Homo sapiens: one gene and its partners. The protein of the gene in region 3 purifies or fractionates together with the protein of the main gene of each other region. This does not show direct contact. Each region holds a gene or a part of one and is shown on either strand. Other genes may lie near its edges.

Region 1 (7,000 bases), on a different chromosome or scaffold from region 3:
GTGATGTAAAACAGCTGTGGTAGTAAAGTGCTTGTCTGCCCCATTTTGCTTTGTTTGGCTGGTTATGAGTGGATTAAATATATATTTATTAAAAAAATTATCCAGCATAGATCAATTAGTTTAAAGTCAATTTTCTTCGCAACTAGTCCTTTTCACAGCTTACCAGTTACCCTCGCAGCCAGTGTTAAATCCACTCTAGGAAATGGGACTTTAGAGCACCAGATTAAAAGGAAAACTATTCTTTTCTCTAAGGGCAACTAATTGTTTCTTTTTATTTAAACTTTTCACAGCCCCATTAAATTGTAAAGCATCTCCTAGTCTATGAGGAACATCAAAAAAAATTGTAAAGCATCTTTTGAAAACAAATTCAACATACTGAGTTGTAATTATAAAGTTTTACTGCATCATGTTTAAAAATGTACTTTTTCTATTTAACCATGCCAGTTGAGATTTTTTTTTTTAAACTAGGTTAAAAAGTTGTGTAGGAGGATATCAGTGGGCAGAGTAAAGTGATACTTGATGGGAAGTTATTTGGGGATCTTAAAAGGAATTTTTAAAGTTTTACAATTTAAACCTCCTGATGCCATTGCTTAAAAGTGCTTTGCATTACTTATTAATGTAATTTTGCCATAGTAATTTGAAATTAATCCCAACTGGACGTCAGCCAAGGTGGTTAATTGGGTTTAAACTAGGAAAGGAAGGTCTTGAGTGTAAGCTGTGAGAATGGCTTGTGTTTGGTTCACTGTAGCTTTCTGGTCTCTGCACTCCAAGGCAAGATCTCTAACCACCCAAAACCCAATGTGTAAAATGAGCTGTTGGTTTGGCTTTGCACCTTACCTTGATTATGTGTTCCTGTTACAGGGAGAACAGATCCCATTCCAATCGTTGTCAAGTATGATGTCATGGGCATGGGTCGCATGGAAATGGAGGTAAATTGATCTCATTAACTCATAAGTTTTGTGAGATATTTTGAAATAATACTAATTCCAAATTCAGATGTCTGTGCAAGAATACATTTATCAGATGAAATGTAGTTTTAATATTTTTCTTTGGATGACTAAAAAATATATTTTACATTTTCATTTAGTGCTACTTTTGAGACAAATAGAATATAAACAGAGCTGCTGTTTTAACTGGCACATAAAGAAGTTAAGTGATTTGCCGAGGGTTATACAGCAAGGCAATATCAGACTTAGATCCAGACCTTGGTACTTGCTTCAGTAGGCAGTGTTGCTCAGCTCTTAAAATGTTGCTGTGATAAAAGCTTTGCCTTTGTAGAATTGGGTACGGCTGTCACCTGTAATACCTGCTTTTCATTGCCTAAAATATTTTCTTCATTGACTCCTAATTCCTTTTTTTTTTTTTTTTTTTTTTTTTGAGATGGAGTTTCGCTCTTGTTGCCCAGGCTAGAGTGCAATGGCGCAGTCTCGGCTCACTGCAACCTCCGTCTCCCGGGTTCAAGGGATTCTCCTGTCTCCTGTCTCAGCCTTCTAAGTAGCTGGGATTACAGGCGCATGACACCATGCCCGGGTAATTTTTGTGTTTTTAGTAGAAACAGGGTTTCATCATATTGGTCAGGCTGGTCTTGAACTCTTGACCTCAGGTGACCCGCCCGCCTCGGCCTCCCACAGTGCTGGGATTACAGGTGTGAGCCACTGTGCCCAGCCTCAATTTTCAAAGAATTAGGAGTCGCTGGGCGCAGTGGCTCACGCCTGTAATCCCAGCACTGTGGGAGGCCGAGACAAGCAGATCACCTGAGGTGAGGAGTTCAAGATCAGCCTGGCCAACATGATGAAACTCCATCTCTACTGAAAATACAAAAAAAATTAGCAGGGCATTGTGGCGGGCACCTGTAATCCCAGCTACTCAGGAGGCTGAGGCAGGAGAATCACTTGAACTCGGGAGGCAGAGGTTGCAGTGAGCGGAGATCATGCCATTAAACCCCAGCCTGAGCAACAAGAGTGAAACTCCATCTCAAAAAAAAAAAAAAAAAAAGGAAAGAAAGAAAAGAAAATTAACATTGAAGTGAAGTCTACTTTCAACAAATGTGCCTTTTGGAAACTACCAGCCTGAAAGTAACAAACTATTTTGCATGTGATTTTCTCTGTGAGGTGACAATAAAGCAAGCAGTAGCTAAGCAAAATTACAATTTTTTTTTGTTTTCAGATAATACTGTAGTTGTGCAAATAACTTTTTCATAGCTAATCTTGGGGGTACTTTAGGAATTAAATCTAATCATATCTATTTTTGTCAAGCTTGATTATGCTGAAGATGCTACCGAACGGCGCCGTGTCCTAGAAGTAGAAAAAGAAGACACAGAAGAGCTGAGACAAAAGTACAAGGTATTTAAACAAAGCTATTCATTGGGAGATGGGGAGGTGCTCACTGAATAAGAAAGAACTCAAATTTTGTTGAAAATCATCACTGTTGCTAACAGCATTTGTTTGACATTTGGTGGTAATTAGTAGTAGATCTCAGATTTCTATTACATTCCTATTTATTGGCTCTGTATAAACTATAGAGATAATAATACCTACTTCTAAAGTGTGTTAGAAAGATTACATGAATTAGTGTTTGAAAACACAATGCCTGTTACATAGTAGGTATTCAAGTAGTGGTAGCAGTAAAAATTGTTAAAAGTCCTTTGAGGCCAGACACAATGGCTCACACTTGTAACCCCAACACTTGCAGAGGCCAGACACAGTGGCTCACACTTGTAACCCCAACACTCAGTAGAGACGGGGTTTCACCATGTTGGTCAGGCTGGTCTCGAACTCCTGACCTTGTGATCCACCCGCCTCGGCCTCCCAAAGTGCTGGGATTACAGGCGTGAGCCACCACGCCAAGCCTAATTTTTGTGTTTTTAGTAGAGATGGGGTTTCACCATGTTGGCCAGGCTGGTCTTGAACTCCTTGCCTCAGGTGATCTGCCTGCCACGGCTTCCCAGTTTGCTGGGATTTCAGGCGTAAGTCACCGCGCTTGACCCCCTTTCTTGTTTTTGAACTTAGCTTAGCTATATATTAAATTTTTGTGTGTTTTATTTTATCCAGAACTATAATATAACCAACTCATCTTCTTTTCCTGCCCCTTTTTCTTTCCCCTTTTTCTTCTCCTTTCCTCTCTCTTTATTCACTCTTCAGCCTATTTATACTGACTTTAGCAGTTTTCACCAAACCACTTTATTCAAGGCCACCAAACACTTCTATTTGCTAAATCCAATAAATCATTTATTTATTTATTTATTTTATTATTATTATTAATATTATTATTTTTTTTAAAGACTGAGTCTCACTCTGTTGCCCAGGCTGGAGTACAGTGGTGTGATCTAAGCTCACTGCTCCCGGGTTCAAGTGATTCTCGTGCCTTAGCCTCCGAGTAGCTGGGACTACAGGTATGAGCCACCACGGCCAGCTAATTTTTTTGAATTTTTGGTAGAGATGGGGTTTCACCATGTTGGCCAGGCTGGTCTCGAACTCCTTACCTCACGTGATCTGCCCACCTCGGCCTCCCAAAGTGTGGGGATTACAGGCGTGAGCCACTGCGCCTGGCATACTCTTTCTTCTTTAAAACATTTTCATTACTCTTGGTTTTGAAGAATTTATACTTTCCTAGATTAGTTGCTTCTTATCTGTCTTGCTGCTTCTATGTAGATTCCTTTGTTGGCTGCTGTTTATTCTGCCTGAACTTCAGATATTGGAGTTCCTCAGCTTCAGACCTGGGCCCTCTTTTTCTGGCTACATTCTTTCTCTAGGCACAAGAGTGGTCATGACACCATGTTTCATCATCTTTCACTTGGTTAAATTTTCTCCTTTGGGTTTTAGCTTAAATATTACCTCATTATAGATCTTCCCTAATCAACTCATTTAAATAATTAACCACTCTGCCTTATTCTCTTGCAACAACCTCTCTTACAATTTGTAATTATAAATTTTTATTCACTAATTTATATTCTGCTTTCTGTACTAGTCAGAAAGGGCATTGAGGAGAGAGAGTATGTCTATTTGTCTGCCAGTATATATCCTGCATCCAGCACAGTGTGTGGTGCATAAGTACTCAATAAATATTAGTTGAATGAATAAATATTTTGAAATAGTGAGAAAAGCCAGATTCATTTTATGTACTGTCTGAAATATAAACATTATAAAGAATACATTTTTATTTTTCAAGTAAAAGTTACACTGTCGAGTGAAAAATAAATGAAATACCTCAGTAATTCACAGCCTCATAAGATTATACATAGTATCTTGAGATGCTCTCTCCCTGGTAATAGAATTATTTCTCGGCTGGGTGCGGTGGATCACGGCTGTGCTTTGGGAGGATTGCTTGAGCCCAGGAGTTTGAGAGCAGTCTGGGCAATGTAGCAAGAATCTGTCTCTACAAAAAGAAAAAAGAAAAAAAATAGCTAGGTGTTGGTGGTGCATGCCTATAAATCCCAGCTACTTAGAGAAGCTGAATTGGGAGGATCACTTGGGCCCAGGAGTTGAAGACAGCAGTGACCTATGATCACACCACTGCACTCCAGCCTGGGCAAGAGCAAGAATTACTTTCCCCATCTTATTGATCAAAATATTTACTCCGAAACCCTGTCAACTCTGAACTACACTGTTTCTAAAATCTTAAATGTCCTATTATCTGACCATGGTCTTTTTTCCTTCCTGCTGTCACTCCTTTATTCTCCTATATTTTTTCTTCAACTTCACATGACTTTGGAAGCTTTAGTAACTTAGCTCCTCCTTAATTTGTACTTTTCCCCTCTAGCACCACACACTCATGTTTACCTCTCACAGCACTTTGATTCCAACTCCCTTTCCTCCTAGTCCTTTTGTCATACATACTCACCAAAAGCCTGTCCCGTTAGTACAAAATGCATTACTTGCATTCTTTATTTCTATACCCTTTCTGCCAACCTCACTGGGCCCTCAGAGCTGCCAATTAATCCTCTCATGTGTCATGTCCCTCTTAGTCCTCTCAGCTGTCATTCTCAAACATTGGTACTCAGCCTTCATCTTTCCTTAACTACCCTTGTCGTATCTCTGCCTTCCCGTATGTTTTTAGTTAAGAAAGAGAATTTGGACCATCAGGTAGTAATGCCTTCATCTACGTATACTATCCTACATCAAACGAGGGTTCACCTGCTCTCATACTTCAATATTTCTCTTTTGTTTCACCATCTGTTAAATGATAATTTGTACATACATCTGAATTCTGGATCCTAACTCTCCCTGTCTTATCAAAGACCTTCCACTTCTTTCCTGTATTGGCAACCTTTCTCTTTATTTGTTCTTTTCCTATCAACAGTAAACATACTTGAAGATTTGTTGGGAGAGGGAATCCTAAAATTAAAAAAAAAAAAAAAAAACCCACTCTGATTTACTCTCCATATAGCTACCACCTTCTCTTTTCACTTGTCTTTAGAACCAGAATTCTTAGTCACTACTCTGACTGCTTCCTTTTCATCACTCTCTCATCTCTAATTTTATAGAGATGGGATCTCACTCTGTCGTCCATGCTGGAGTTCTGTGGTGCTATCGTAGCTCACTACAGCCTTAAACTCCTGGGCTCATACAATCCTCCCACCTCAGCCTCCCAAGTAACCAAGACTATAGGCGTGCACCACCATGCCTGGCTAATTTTTTTTTTAAGAGATAGGGTCTCACTATGTTGCCCAGGCTGGTCTCAAACTCCTGACTTCAAATGATCCCCCTACCTCAGCCTCCCATTTTTATTTTTTAATTTTCATTTTTATCAAAGTTTTACTTGTATATAGTCTTAGAGCCAAATAGCTCTACCAGACTTTTAAAAGAAAAAACAAAAACTGCAGTCTCATTTGACATTCTTGTTATTTTATTAAATATTTTTAATATGTGAGATATAAAGAAAAACTATAAACACTTAGGTATTTTCTACTCAATTTAAGAAAAAGAGCACTATCAGTAACTTCATGATCCCATCACATTTCTGTCTCCTTTAGAGATAAACACTATGCTGATTTTTGTGTTTTTCGCCTTTTTTTTTTTTTTTTTTTTTTCCTTTTTGAGACAGTCTTGTTCTGTCACCCAGGCTGGAGTGCAATGGCAGAATCTCAGCTCACTGCAACCTTTGCCTCCTGGTTTCAAGCAATTCTCCTGCCCCAGCCTCCTGAGTAGCTGGGATTACAGGTGTGCACCATCACACCCAGCGAATTATTTTGGTATTTTTAGTGGAGACAGGGTTCTGTCATGTTGGCCAGGCTGGTCTAGAACTCCTGACCTCAAGTGATCCGCCTGCCTCAGCCTCCCAAAATGCTGGGATTACAGGCGTGAGCCACTGTGCCTGGCCCCCTCACAATTTTGTAGGTAAAATTGTTGTTGAGATAAAATTCACATAACATAAATTTACCATTTTAGTCATTTTATAGCAATACTACAATTTAATGATTTTTAGCTTATTTACAGTGTTGTAAAATTATCACCACTGTGGCCAGTGCGGTGGCTCACACCTGTAATCCCAGCACTTTGGGAGGCCAAGGTGGGCGGGTCACTTGAGGTCAGGAGTTCCAGACCAGCCTGGCCAAAATGGTGAAACCCCTTCCCTACTAAAAATACAAAAAAAAAAAAAAAAGCTGGGCGTGGTGTTGTGTGCCTGTAATCCGAGCTACTCAGGAGGCTGAGGCAGGAGAATCGCTTGAACCCAGGAGGCGGAGGTTGCAGTGAGCCAAGATCGCACCACTGCACTCCAGCCTGGGCGACAGACAGAGTGAGACTCTATCTCAAAAAAAAAAATGCAACAGTGAACATTCCTGTCGTCTTTCTGATCTTTATAGAGAAGCTTTCAGTCTTTCACCATTATGATGTTAGCTGGGGGTTTTTTGTTCTCATCAGGTTGAGGAAGTGCCTAATTTCTAGAAATTCCTGCTTTGTTTAGTGTTTTTACCATGAAAGAGAGTATTGGGTTTTGTCAAATGCTTATTTTGCATCTACTGAGATAACCTTGTGGGTTTTTTCCTTTTATATTCTGTTAA
Region 2 (3,759 bases), on a different chromosome or scaffold from region 3:
TTCTCCTAAAAGGAAAAAGAGACACAGTAGGAGTAGATCTCCAACAATCAAAGCTAGACGTAGCAGGAGTAGAAGCTATTCTCGCAGAATTAAAATAGAGAGCAATAGGGCTAGGGTAAAGATTAGAGATAGAAGGAGATCTAATAGAAATAGCATTGAAAGAGAAAGACGACGAAATCGGAGTCCTTCCCGAGAGAGACGTAGAAGTAGAAGTCGCTCAAGGGATAGACGAACCAATCGTGCCAGTCGCAGTAGGAGTCGAGATAGGCGTAAAATTGATGATCAACGTGGAAATCTTAGTGGGAACAGTCATAAGCATAAAGGTGAGGCTAAAGAACAAGAGAGGAAAAAGGAGAGGAGTCGAAGTATAGATAAAGATAGGAAAAAGAAAGACAAAGAAAGGGAACGTGAACAGGATAAAAGAAAAGAGAAACAAAAAAGGGAAGAAAAAGATTTTAAGTTCAGTAGTCAGGATGATAGATTAAAAAGGAAACGAGAAAGTGAAAGAACATTTTCTAGGAGTGGTTCTATATCTGTTAAAATCATAAGACATGATTCTAGACAGGATAGTAAGAAAAGTACTACCAAAGATAGTAAAAAACATTCAGGCTCTGATTCTAGTGGAAGGAGCAGTTCTGAGTCTCCAGGAAGTAGCAAAGAAAAGAAGGCTAAGAAGCCTAAACATAGTCGATCGCGATCCGTGGAGAAATCTCAAAGGTCTGGTAAGAAGGCAAGCCGCAAACACAAGTCTAAGTCCCGATCAAGGTAGTATACTTTTTAAAGTATTTTGTCTGATTTTTAAAAAAAATTGACTGAATTTATTCAAAGTTGAAAGTGTCCTTTCTCTCTCTCTTTAATAAACTCAGTTTGGTACTTGATAAATAATCATAGTCTTAAATGTTAGAAATCCTATATAATATTATTTATTTAAAATTGCAGATTTTTAATTTAAAATACATTTTTATTTTTAAATTTTGTCTTTTCCCTTTTTTTTCAGATCAACAACCCCTCCCCGTCGTAAACGCTGAGGAATGATGTGGCAAGAATGCCATGATGTTCTTTAAAAAAATTCCATGAGTTTTAAGGGCTTGTCTCATTATAGAGGCACATTGTGGCTGTGTAGGTGAAACCAGAATCTTTTTTTTTTTTAATCTGTAAATAGGTGTACTTTTTCCAATGCTGCTCCAAGTTACTTAATAGGATTTCTTTGTATTACGTTTTTTTCAAAAAATATAGTGCATAATAAGACTATAAACATGCCATTCTCTTTCAGCTGTAATGTTCTTAAAATTATTCTTGAATGTACTGTGATGTCAATAAAGCTCTTTAGTTCATTTTTGTTAAACTCTTGCACCTTAATTTTATGGTTTTAATCTAAGGAACGTACTTTTATAAAAAGGCAGCTGGAATTTTGTATAACAGGTTTTAAAGGTACCTTCTCTCACCTCCCCCAAAGAAAATGGTTTTTACTTAATAGTTTGTCAAAGTTTGTAAATTGTACCCATGGACTTTTGCCAGATTCCAACTTTAAGGGTATGAAAGAGGGCTAGAAATAGACCTTTACTTTTCATTTGGAAGTATTTGACAACTTTCTAAACTTTTCTTCCTATTTTGGGGATTTTCAAGTAATATATTCTCTGTGTGTATAACGTGTGGTTCACTCCTGTAAAATGAAATTGCTGGAATCAATCAAGCCAGTGCACCAGTAGAGTTATTTGTAAGGAACGATTGTGTTTGACAGTAATAGTCAAGTCTGGAACTATATTCTACAGTCACCCACTTCTGTTTTAGAAGCATTTTGAAACACTTTTTGGGGTTATAGAAATAAGACTCATGATTCAATATATTTATTTATATTTTTAAAGTATAATATGACCTCAAATCAATGGAGGAATGCTGTATTATGCAGGTTTGTGTCAATTTCCTGACATTAAAATTGTCTGATTTTGTCCGTTTCTTAAAATTATGATTAGTGAGTGGTCTAACAGTTTAAGGCATTGATAACTTACAAGTAGAATGGGGCTCTCAAAGCATTTTAACTCAGTTGCTTTAGGGTCCATTTTTTTATGTAATCACTTACTCAGTGATAAATGAATCTCTGAAAACAAATGCTTTTACATTTTAATTTAAAAAGAAAACAGGTGCAGGCCACAGAAAAGTTTTAAAGTATGCCTTCTTACCAGCAATAGTTCATTTTAAAAATCATGCCAGATTTTTGCCAAGATCAGTGTTTCCTCAACATGAAGATAGAAATAGATTTGTATAGTGTGCTCTTGTACCTCTACATAGATTATTATATAATTTTGAGCAGTTACACATTTATCTAAAGGAAATAAATCAACTGTGAATAAATGCATGTTTACCAAAATGGCTGTTTACAGTGCATTTAGTTCTGATATTTATAAAGATGACATTTCACAGAATAACTTTAAAATAGTTTGAAATTCTATATAGTTTAGACATCGATCACATCTGGAGACAAAATAAAATGTGCAATATTTTTTATGTAGGCGAGCTAACACAGTGTACCTAATTGCAGAATTATCTGATTAATTTGTAATAGATAAGTTGTATAACATTTTCATATCTTAAAATGTTTTTTAGATCAATCTTGAAGTGAAATATTTTCAAAATAAAATTCTACAGAAAAATTCTGTTGGCTATGATATGCACATTTTTGGGCAAGTTATGAACTAGAGCCAAAAGTAGTATTTGACAGTTTTATTTACTCTGCCGTAATTTGCAAGCTTATCAGTTAAGTCTGTAGTTTTTTTAAAAGCCGTCATGATATTTGTGATTATTAGTACATAAACCAGTGTTATAATTTGATATTTGGGTTTTTCAGACTTTTAGTGGCAGATTTAGAGAATTCTTTATTTTCTTGACATGTGATATAGTATTTATTTACCTTGAGTGGTAAGGTTTTATAAGGTAGGGTTTCCATGATTTAGGATGTGAATGCAAAAACTTACACATAAGTTAATTAGATGTATAATTTGGTTATGAAATCTTTTCTAAAATAATACCACCAGAAAATTAACAGATCAAATTTTTGAGACAATCCTTGGTCTGGATTGGTTAATGAAAATGTCTTGTTTAAGAGGTTCTATTAAAAAATATTTCTAGTGTATTAGTCATAATTGTTTTTGTGGAGTGGGGGTAAACCACACCATTAAGGGAATAAAATGTAATTTGAAAGAGGTGATTATAAGATTTGTTTCAGGCCCCAAAATATAAATAAAAATTGGTGTGGAATCTCGTTAGTGTATATGTTTTCTGCCACTATAAAATTACCTTTTTAGCATCTGTTTCTAGTGGTGTAATACCAAGTAGGTAAATTTCGCAGTCTATTTTTAAGTGTCCTGAGTTTTTTGTTTCCTTAAACACATGAAAGGTAATAGTAAAGAATTTTTTACTGTATTTGGGAATTTTTACATAGGAGTTGTATTAGGTTTCCAGTCTCTGTAGTGTTGCCTTACAGAAATCTTTACATCTAAACTGAGTTTTTCTTCTCCTACATAAATTTAAATGTATTTTGATTTACTGAAGTTTCTAAAATGTACTGAGTACAGACATACACCACATAACGACGTTTCAGTCAATGACGGGCCACATGTACAACAGTGGTCCCATAAGATTATAATGTATTTTTACTGTACCTTTTCTGTGTTTAAATACACAAAACCATGATATTACAGTTGCCTACAGTTTTCAATATAGTATTTGTAGCCTAGGAGCAAAAGGCTATACCATGTAGCC
Region 3 (7,818 bases):
TGCTCCCAGGGCCTGACCACTGGACTCAGGGAATTGAGCCTCCAGCAATCCTGAGGGGTCCTCTGTTGGTGCCCTGGTGATAAATGGTCCCCCAGGGACTCTGCTGCATCTTTAGGTAAGTCTGGCCCAGGGAAAGCCCAAACGGGACAAAGGCCAAGAGGTCCGGAGGCCCCACATTGGGGTCCTGTCCCCTCCTCCGCTGAGATCATCCTGGTTCAGGCCCTACCTTTCATAGACATAAACAGAGTTTCCTGCTACCTTGGTCCCCTGCCACGTGGGGCTCCAGAGCTTGCAGTAAATCTAGGGAGGCCAGGAGGGGCCCAAGAGGCCTCCAGCTGCCTCCCAACAACTGTAGGCAACACCTCCTAATTTAGTGGCAGCTGTGAACACCAGCCTGCAGGCACCCCCTCCTCTCTGCTGCTCTACTCTCTCAAGGGCTGGGGCTGGGTTTCCTGCTGCAATGAACATGCTGAAGCCCAAGCCCTGCTTAACTCACAGCTGAGGTGTCACCCACAGGACCAGGGGAGCTGAAGACCTCCCTCAAGGTCTGTTAAGAACAAGGGCCAAGCTTCTAGACCACCATCCAATTGCTTCAGGGGACCGGTCAAGGGGCTGCCCTGACTGAGCCTCCGGCTCGAGCTAAATCATGGTAGAAGTTCCTACAGCTGAATTTTGCCCATCTAATGAGGGAGTATTGTGGGGAGGTCTCTCCAGTTTTGGGGGTGGGCATGCAGTCCAGTGCTACATCCCGAAAGTTTAGCTGTCAACATGCAGGCAAAGCCAAAGGCCAGCTGTCTCCTCCCAAGCACTTGGGGTCCAAATCTCTGAACCCCTGAAGGAGAATCCACTGGAGGCTCTGCTTCCCTGTGGGTGGAGGAGGGGAAATGCAGAGGAAGGCACTAGAGTAAAGGGTTGCTATGGTGATGGAAGTTTTAAAACAAGGGGAGGGGGAGGGGAGATGTGTTGGTCAGGTCCCTTCTTCAAGAATTTCCTGAGACCTTAGCCTGGCTGCTTCTTCAAGGTTCTGTGACCCAGGTCCCCATCAAGAAAGGGGAGGTGGGGAGATGGAGAGAATTTAGAAAAAAGAGAATGGGGCAGAGACACAGACAAAGACAGAACCTGTGATGGAAGAGGAGCAAGGAGATGACAAAGTAAAAGGGACACAGGCACAAAGGGCAGGAAAGGGGAGGTGGACGGGAGTTCTGAAGGGGGCGGATGGGTGCCCAGCAGAGCCCTAAGGCCTCCATGGCGATGTGCTCTAAATCCCTGGGCCAGGAGCTATCCATGGTACTGGGACCTTCGAGACTGCACCCTCCTGTATCCCCCAAACATACACTGAACTTGGTGTAGGAGGCACAGCCAAAAGGAGGCCAGCTCCTTGGAGCATGTTGGTGGGGAAGAGGCCAGCTGCTGCAGCCCCCCAGTCAGGACAGTTCCCAGCCCGTCTCTCTGCCATCACGGCAGCTTAGGTAAAGCAGGTCCAACATGTTGAAGGCAGACGCATAGGGGTATGGAAATGAGGCTCGGATGCCTGGCTGCTTCCCTTTATAGTCCCTCTTCTCAGTTGGCCCAGCTGTACTTAGACCCTCCCAGCCAACCCCTCCCCCATCTGCTATCCTTTCCAGGCTTTGGGTCCCCAGAGCCCCTCTTACAGCTCTGCTTAATCCCCTCTCACCAACCCCCAACAGCAGATCCTGCCATGAGTGCCAGAAACGGCACCACAAGCAACCCAGAAACAGGATAACCACACAGCCCTTCACCTCCCCATGCCTCAGTTTCCCCTAATGGAAACCATGGAATCTGGCCTTCTCCCAGGGCAGAGGACTGCTTGCCTGCCTGTGAATGGTGGCCAGGGCATGGGGCTGGAGAGTAGGGCCATCAGAGATATGTGAACAGCCAGCCTAGGAGAGCACCTGAAGGGTCCACACCAAATATTAGAAAAGGGAGACCCTTGCCCCACCCTGGAAACCAACCTGACTCTGAGTGGAGACACCAGTTCCCCAGTTGAGGAAACTGAGGCTCAGAAGTCGCTGGAGCTGCCAGGAATCAACTCTGAGGGTGGGGGAGGGCACCAGGTCTCTAAAGGTAGTCCTGGGGGCTCAAAGCCTGGACTTGGGGGTAAGGGGAGTACAGCACAGGGACTGGACTACTGCAGACTCTGAGCTTTTAGTGTGGGACAGAGGGCCCTGATCCTTAGGAAGGAACCTGGTGGAGCAGGATCTGCCTGGGAGGTGCGGACAAAAGCAATTTGGCAGAGCTATGCGGGGAGGGGGCTGGGGCTCAAGAGCCCAGGGTCTCTGCCAAACAGTACAAGCTGGGGAAGGCAGAAGCTCATGCTGTCACTATCCCAGCCACCTCCAGCCAGGGGCCCTGCTCCCCACCGTGCTGCCACCCTGACCCCTTTCCCAAGTGCTGCTGGCTCGCCCCCGCTGGCACAGCAACACACATGCGGAAAGCACACGTGTGAGCACCAAGCCCCGCACCTCCCAGCAGGAACATGTGCGCCCCCACCCCCACCGTGCACGTGGGTCCATGCACTGGACCCCCAGCTGGCACCCAGGTGAAGGCTTGGAAGCTGAATTTTGGCTGGGGGGCTGCTGGTCCCCAGGGGCTTGGAGCTTCCTCCCCCACCCCGCGGCAGCCCCGCCCAGCCCCCTCCGGGTTGTCGCCCATAAAGAACTCTCCGTTGTCATGGAAATTAGTGACTGCTAAGCGGGAGGGAAGGGGCCCGGGGACAGTTGGGAGGGGCTGGAGGCGGCTCTGGGAACGGGGAGGGACGGCTCAGCTCTCGGCCCCTATCCTCACGGGGGACCACGAATCTTCGAGGGTTAATCTTTTCACAATTCCGAGCCGCAGAAGCTTCCCCCCAGAACCCCCAAGCCGTCCGAGGTAATGGGGAACTTTAGCCCGACCCCGCACTCCCTCCCCCAAATCTGCAAAGCCCGCGCGCTCTGACCCCGCCAGGACCTCGAGCCCTCGCTGCGCCCCCGCGCACTCTGCATCCCGCACCTCGAGCCAGGGAAACAATCCCCCAAGGCCCCACAACCTGCGTTCGGGAAGCGCCCCCAGCCCGGCCCGCCCCGCACCTGCAGCGCCGGTTGGTCACAGGGAGGAAGTGATCGCGGGCTCAGCGGGGCGCCGAGGGCTCCGGGGACGGCGGGCAGAATCCGCTCCGAGCACGCGGGGCAGACGCGGCGCCAGATGCAGCCGCTTCGGCTAGCGAACCTCCAGCATCGCCAGCCGCTTGCCGGCACCGGATTCGCACCCCGGGCCGGGGGCGGGCTGGGGGCGGGGCCTCCCAACCGGCCCCGCCCCGACCCTGGCGGAGCCTTAAGGGCAGAATCCCACTGGAGAGCAGGAGCGCGCGGGATGGCAGCGGTGCTGGTGAGCACTGGCCTGCTTAGCCCTGGCCAAGGTTCTCAATGGCTCCCTTAGGCCCTCAGCCTGGGGCCGGAGGAGGCCTCCTATGCCCAATGTAAGGGGTGGTGAGTGGAGAGTTGGGGGAAAGCCTGAGTCCTGGAGCTGCATAGGATCGCTTGCCAGTCATTAGTCTCTAGGGAACGGGGCTTTGCCCAGCTCCCCGAACCCGACCCAAAAGGCAGGACCAACTTAGAAAAACCAGATGGGCAGTCGGGCTAGGGCAGGCTCCCCTAGCTAGGAGCAGTAAACACACAGAGGTGTGTGTTTGCAGGTAGTCAGTGTGGCATCCCCTAGCATCCCCTAGCTACGCATCCCCTAGCTAGGAGCAGTAAACACACAGAGGTGTGTGTTTGCAGGTAGTCAGTGTGAAAACAGTGAGGGCCCTAGACTGTAGTAGCAAAGTCTCCTATCCCACCCCATCCCCAACTCCTGCAAGGCCAGAGTCTTTCCCAAACATAAGTACCAGCAAGGGTGGCAGCACAGTCAGCCCCTTCCTGTGTGGCACCAAATTTCCCAAACTATAAAAGTCACCTGTGACATGGTGTGGCCTCTGCTTTCTTTTCAGTCTAATCACTGTCAAACACTTCATGAGTTGTATCACTCTAGTGGCCTGGCCTGGGATATGGGGACACAGGAGAACTGTGGCACCAAGGTATCCCACCTGGCCTGGGTGCTAATCAGAGGGAGGAGGCTCAGAACCACCAGGAGGAAGCTTTAAAGGAAGTCCTTGGCCATTTCTCTGTCCCTTGTCAGTGAGGCTCACGGACCCAAAGCCTGACCCACACCCCTCACAAGCCCTGAGGACCATCCTAAGGCCAGTATCTGAAGACCAGACTCAGGCCTCTCAGTGTCTGGAGCTGGGTTTTATCCCACCTCACTCCTCCCAGTGAGCCTCCTGACCCTGCTGTGGGAGAGGGAGTTGGGGTCATCCCCAAACCCTCAGCCATCTTGAGGCTGCCCTGGCCACCCATGGCTGATGACAGGAGGGACTGTCCAAGTCCAGAAGCTGGGGCTGGGGCTCAGACTGAAGGCTAGCTTAGGAAATGACCGCCTCAAACAAGGTTCCTCAAAATTTTCCTCCAGAGGGGGTACTGAGCCCTTCACCTTCCTCCCTGGCTTGGTGTTACCTCCTCTAGGCCAGGCTGGTGCCACTTCTGGGGTCCCTGGGCTCTGAGTGGTCTCGGGTTATGGGACCCACCCCACCACTGGGTAGGAATCTCCTGGCAGGCTGGGTATCTGCAAGGCAGAACCCGTTTCTCATCTCAGTATGCTCGGCTGATGTCTGCAGAATGAATGAATGGCCTGGCACTGAGTCCTTCCTGCCATCTGCCCACTATTCTTGAAACAATGGGTCTCTGAGTTTTATGGTGTAGCCAAGCTGTAGCTTGCTGACCCCACACATGCCACATACATGTTTTCTGTCTTTCCTGAGGGTCATGGCTATCCAGGCATGGGGGTCAATGAGAAGCTGGAATGGGGATTTTTAGGCAGGGGAAGGGGTGGCTCCTTAGCGCCCTGCCTGCTGCTGGCAGTACTCCACCTCTTCTTGGTCCTAAGCACGCTCTGTGCATGTGGGTGAGAGCACGTGGCAGGGTGTGTGTGCACACGTGTACGTGTTGTGTATGCTCTCTTTTGCCGAGGGAGATGCAACAGCACAGTGTATGCAGTGGTGCCCAGGGGCACGTGTGTCTGCATTCTTTGTGCACCCAGGCATGCTTGCTGGCACGTGTGTGTGGACGCTGTAGCTGGTCCCTGGAGTTATCAGTCCCCTTCCTGCCTGACACAAGTCTCAGGATTGTGGAGGCTGAATCAGGCTTTGAGAGCTGGACATGGGAAGGGGGCTGGACCATGTCCAGCAGTGGGCAGGGTCTGTGCTGACCCTACATCATTGGCTGTTTTCAGGCTCCCCACCAGAGCAGCCCCTTGATCTCTGGTGTATGTGAAGATAGACAAGTCTTTGCCATTTGTGGAGGGCAATCTGAAGACAAGAACCCAGGGCTAGGATTGAGCCATGGCTTATCCCTCAGCCCCTAGACAGGAAGGCACAGGCAGGGTAGGACCGGCTTCAATGTTTTGGCTTCAACCTCCAGCTGCCTTTCAGGCAGGAGATAGTAACATCAGCTGAATGCCATCCTCTTAGCTCTTCCAGGGCAGGGACGGGACCAATGCTGAGCTTTGTTCTTACTTCCACTATTCAAAGCCAGACGGGGTCAGGGGACATGATTTCTCACCACTCCACTGGCCAGAGTGATGGCAGGAGGCCCTTTAGCACAGACCAGAGTTTGGAACAAGAGCAGAGGCAATCCAGATTAGCATTGCCTAGTAGCCTTTATGAGGACCCTCCTAAGGAGGCCTGTACCCTGAAGACAGGGGCTGCCTGGGTTGGGAGGCTGAGGAGGAGAAGAGGGCCCAAGTTCGTAGTTCTGGCTCCCACCAAAGCTAGAAAGTCAGAGGGGCAGAATAAGGTGCGAGCCGCAGTATCCACAGAGCTTCATCCCCCAGCTCAGGTTGGGCCTCCTACCCAGGATCCAGGACTTATCTGTGCCCCCAACTCCCAGCTCTAGGGTGCCAAAGGCCGGCACTCCTATGCCCTTAGATTCTGGCTGGCTGATAGAAGCCCCTGCTAACCCAGCATAGCGCTCCAGCAAAGGTTCAGACTCTAGGAGGTACCTAGATTACCAGTGCAGCTCCCCAAGAAGCCTGAACTCTGACAGAACCCTCCCACCCCAGGCCCCCAGCCATCTTTGAAACTGCCTGACTGTTGTCCATGTTGCTTGGCTTCAGTCCCCAGAAGAGGGCCCACAATGGGGAAGGGCAAGCAGTCTTTTCCTCTGGAGCCAGGGGAGGGGGCTGCCCCCCGCCCCCCACCTTGTGACTCACTCCAGGCTGTGTGGGTTATTACATTATGTTTGAAATTGCCATGGCAACAAGCTGGCAATCAAGGGTAATTGCACTTGTCGTCAGGGCAACGGGGCAAAACCCACAGCAGCCACTGTCTGTGGTTGCCCTTGGGGTGCAGTAAAGGTCAGGCCAGATCAGAGCCAATGCCAGTCAAGGGGCTCCGGGGCTGTCTAGAAAGGGTAGGTTGCCAGGGCCCATGGAGTTCCAGAGTGCAGAGGCAGGGCATGCCTTTGGAGAGAGCCAGGGCCCCCATCCATGACCCCATGCCTGGACTCCTGCTTTTCCCACACCACCCTGTGGCTGAAACATGCCACGGTGCTTAAAGAAAGCAGAACCAGAACTTTTATATGCTCACAGCTGGTACTTATAGATAGCCCATGGGCCCTCTTCCTCATATTCCTGGCAGCTGAGCCACAGGCTCTGGAAAGAGCTCCGGGATGCCATGATGGAGCCCCCAAGCCAGGCAGCAACTGCACGGTGGGGAGACCCCAGCACAGTGGCACCAGGGCCCAGCTCCTGTCTCAGGCGCTCAGGGAAGCCACTCATGAGGGTGCTGCCACCGTCCAGTACCACATTGGCCAGTAGCTGCTCCTGCTGCTTGGCCTCCAACCGGCTGATGCTTAGGAGGGCCAGCTGTGGAAGGCCCAGCTGGTTGAGACCTATCAGATTGGGTTGGAAGAGGGCCTCAGGGCAGCAGAAGCGCTCAGGCCCCAGCGTGATAACCTGCTTGTCTGGAAGCACAAAGTCCACCTCGGCCTGCGCCTGGGTGTGGGCCCTCTCAGCTGCCACATCCATGGCCACGTAGCAGCAGGCCTCTTTCATCTGGTTGATCAGTCCTGCCTGGGGCAGTGAGTGGCCACTTCTCTGCAGCAGCTGGGCCAAGTAGTCAGTAAGGTCAGCACCAGCCACATCCAGCCGGTAGGTGTCAAGTGGGGCCAGATCCCCAGTGAGGATGGGTGCCACATAGGAAGTGCCATGGCCACTGCCCAGCACCAGCCCAGTGGTACGTCCATAAGCATAGAGCGCCAGCAGGGCCTGATGCACTGTCTGCATGGCTGGGACATGGAAATGCTCAAAGAGTATTTCAGCCACCTTTTCTCGGTTGGTGAGTGGTGAGATGGGCGAGTCGGCTACGAGCACAGACAGCTTCTCGGGCTGCACACCCAGCCTTCAATAGAACAGGTGCTGCCATAGCACCTCTAGTGCATCCCAGTCATAGACCACACCACGGTTCAGCACTGAATAGGATCCCACTTGGTTTTCAGGCACTGCATATCGTGGCTGGCCCTGGGCTGGGTGCTGCAGCAGCTGAACTCGTGAGGGTATGACACTGAGGACATGGTCCTCTCCCGCCAGTCCACATTTGGTGAATCCTGTGCCTGTATCAATCACCACGGCCGCCATGTCCTGGAAGGGTCCCAGTGAGTGGCAGCAGAGCACTGGCGACCGAACTGGCAGAGCATCCATGGTGGACACCAGTTCATAGCAGGCCCCGTG

The links. Proteins that work in one complex are often made in the same cells at the same time.
Region 1: the proteins of CAMKV (region 3) and GPATCH8 purify together in Homo sapiens (affinity purification with mass spectrometry; 4 studies listed by BioGRID and IntAct, with this or other methods). This does not show direct contact.
Region 2: the proteins of CAMKV (region 3) and PNISR purify together in Homo sapiens (affinity purification with mass spectrometry; 4 studies listed by BioGRID and IntAct, with this or other methods). This does not show direct contact.

What each region holds. Positions count from the first base shown.
Region 1 is NC_000017.11:44,430,407-44,437,406, reverse strand, and holds part of GPATCH8 (G patch domain-containing protein 8), read left to right. Parts: exon of another isoform or gene 1-861; coding exon 862-929; intron 930-2,255; coding exon 2,256-2,342; intron 2,343-7,000.
Region 2 is NC_000006.12:99,397,550-99,401,308, reverse strand, and holds the end of PNISR (arginine/serine-rich protein PNISR), read left to right. Parts: coding exon 1-769; 3' UTR 770-997; coding exon of another isoform or gene 998-1,035; 3' UTR 1,036-3,259; downstream 3,260-3,759.
Region 3 is NC_000003.12:49,866,672-49,874,489, forward strand, and holds the start of CAMKV (caM kinase-like vesicle-associated protein), read right to left. Parts: upstream 3,236-7,818; 5' UTR 3,087-3,235; intron 1-3,086. UniProt on the Homo sapiens protein: Does not appear to have detectable kinase activity.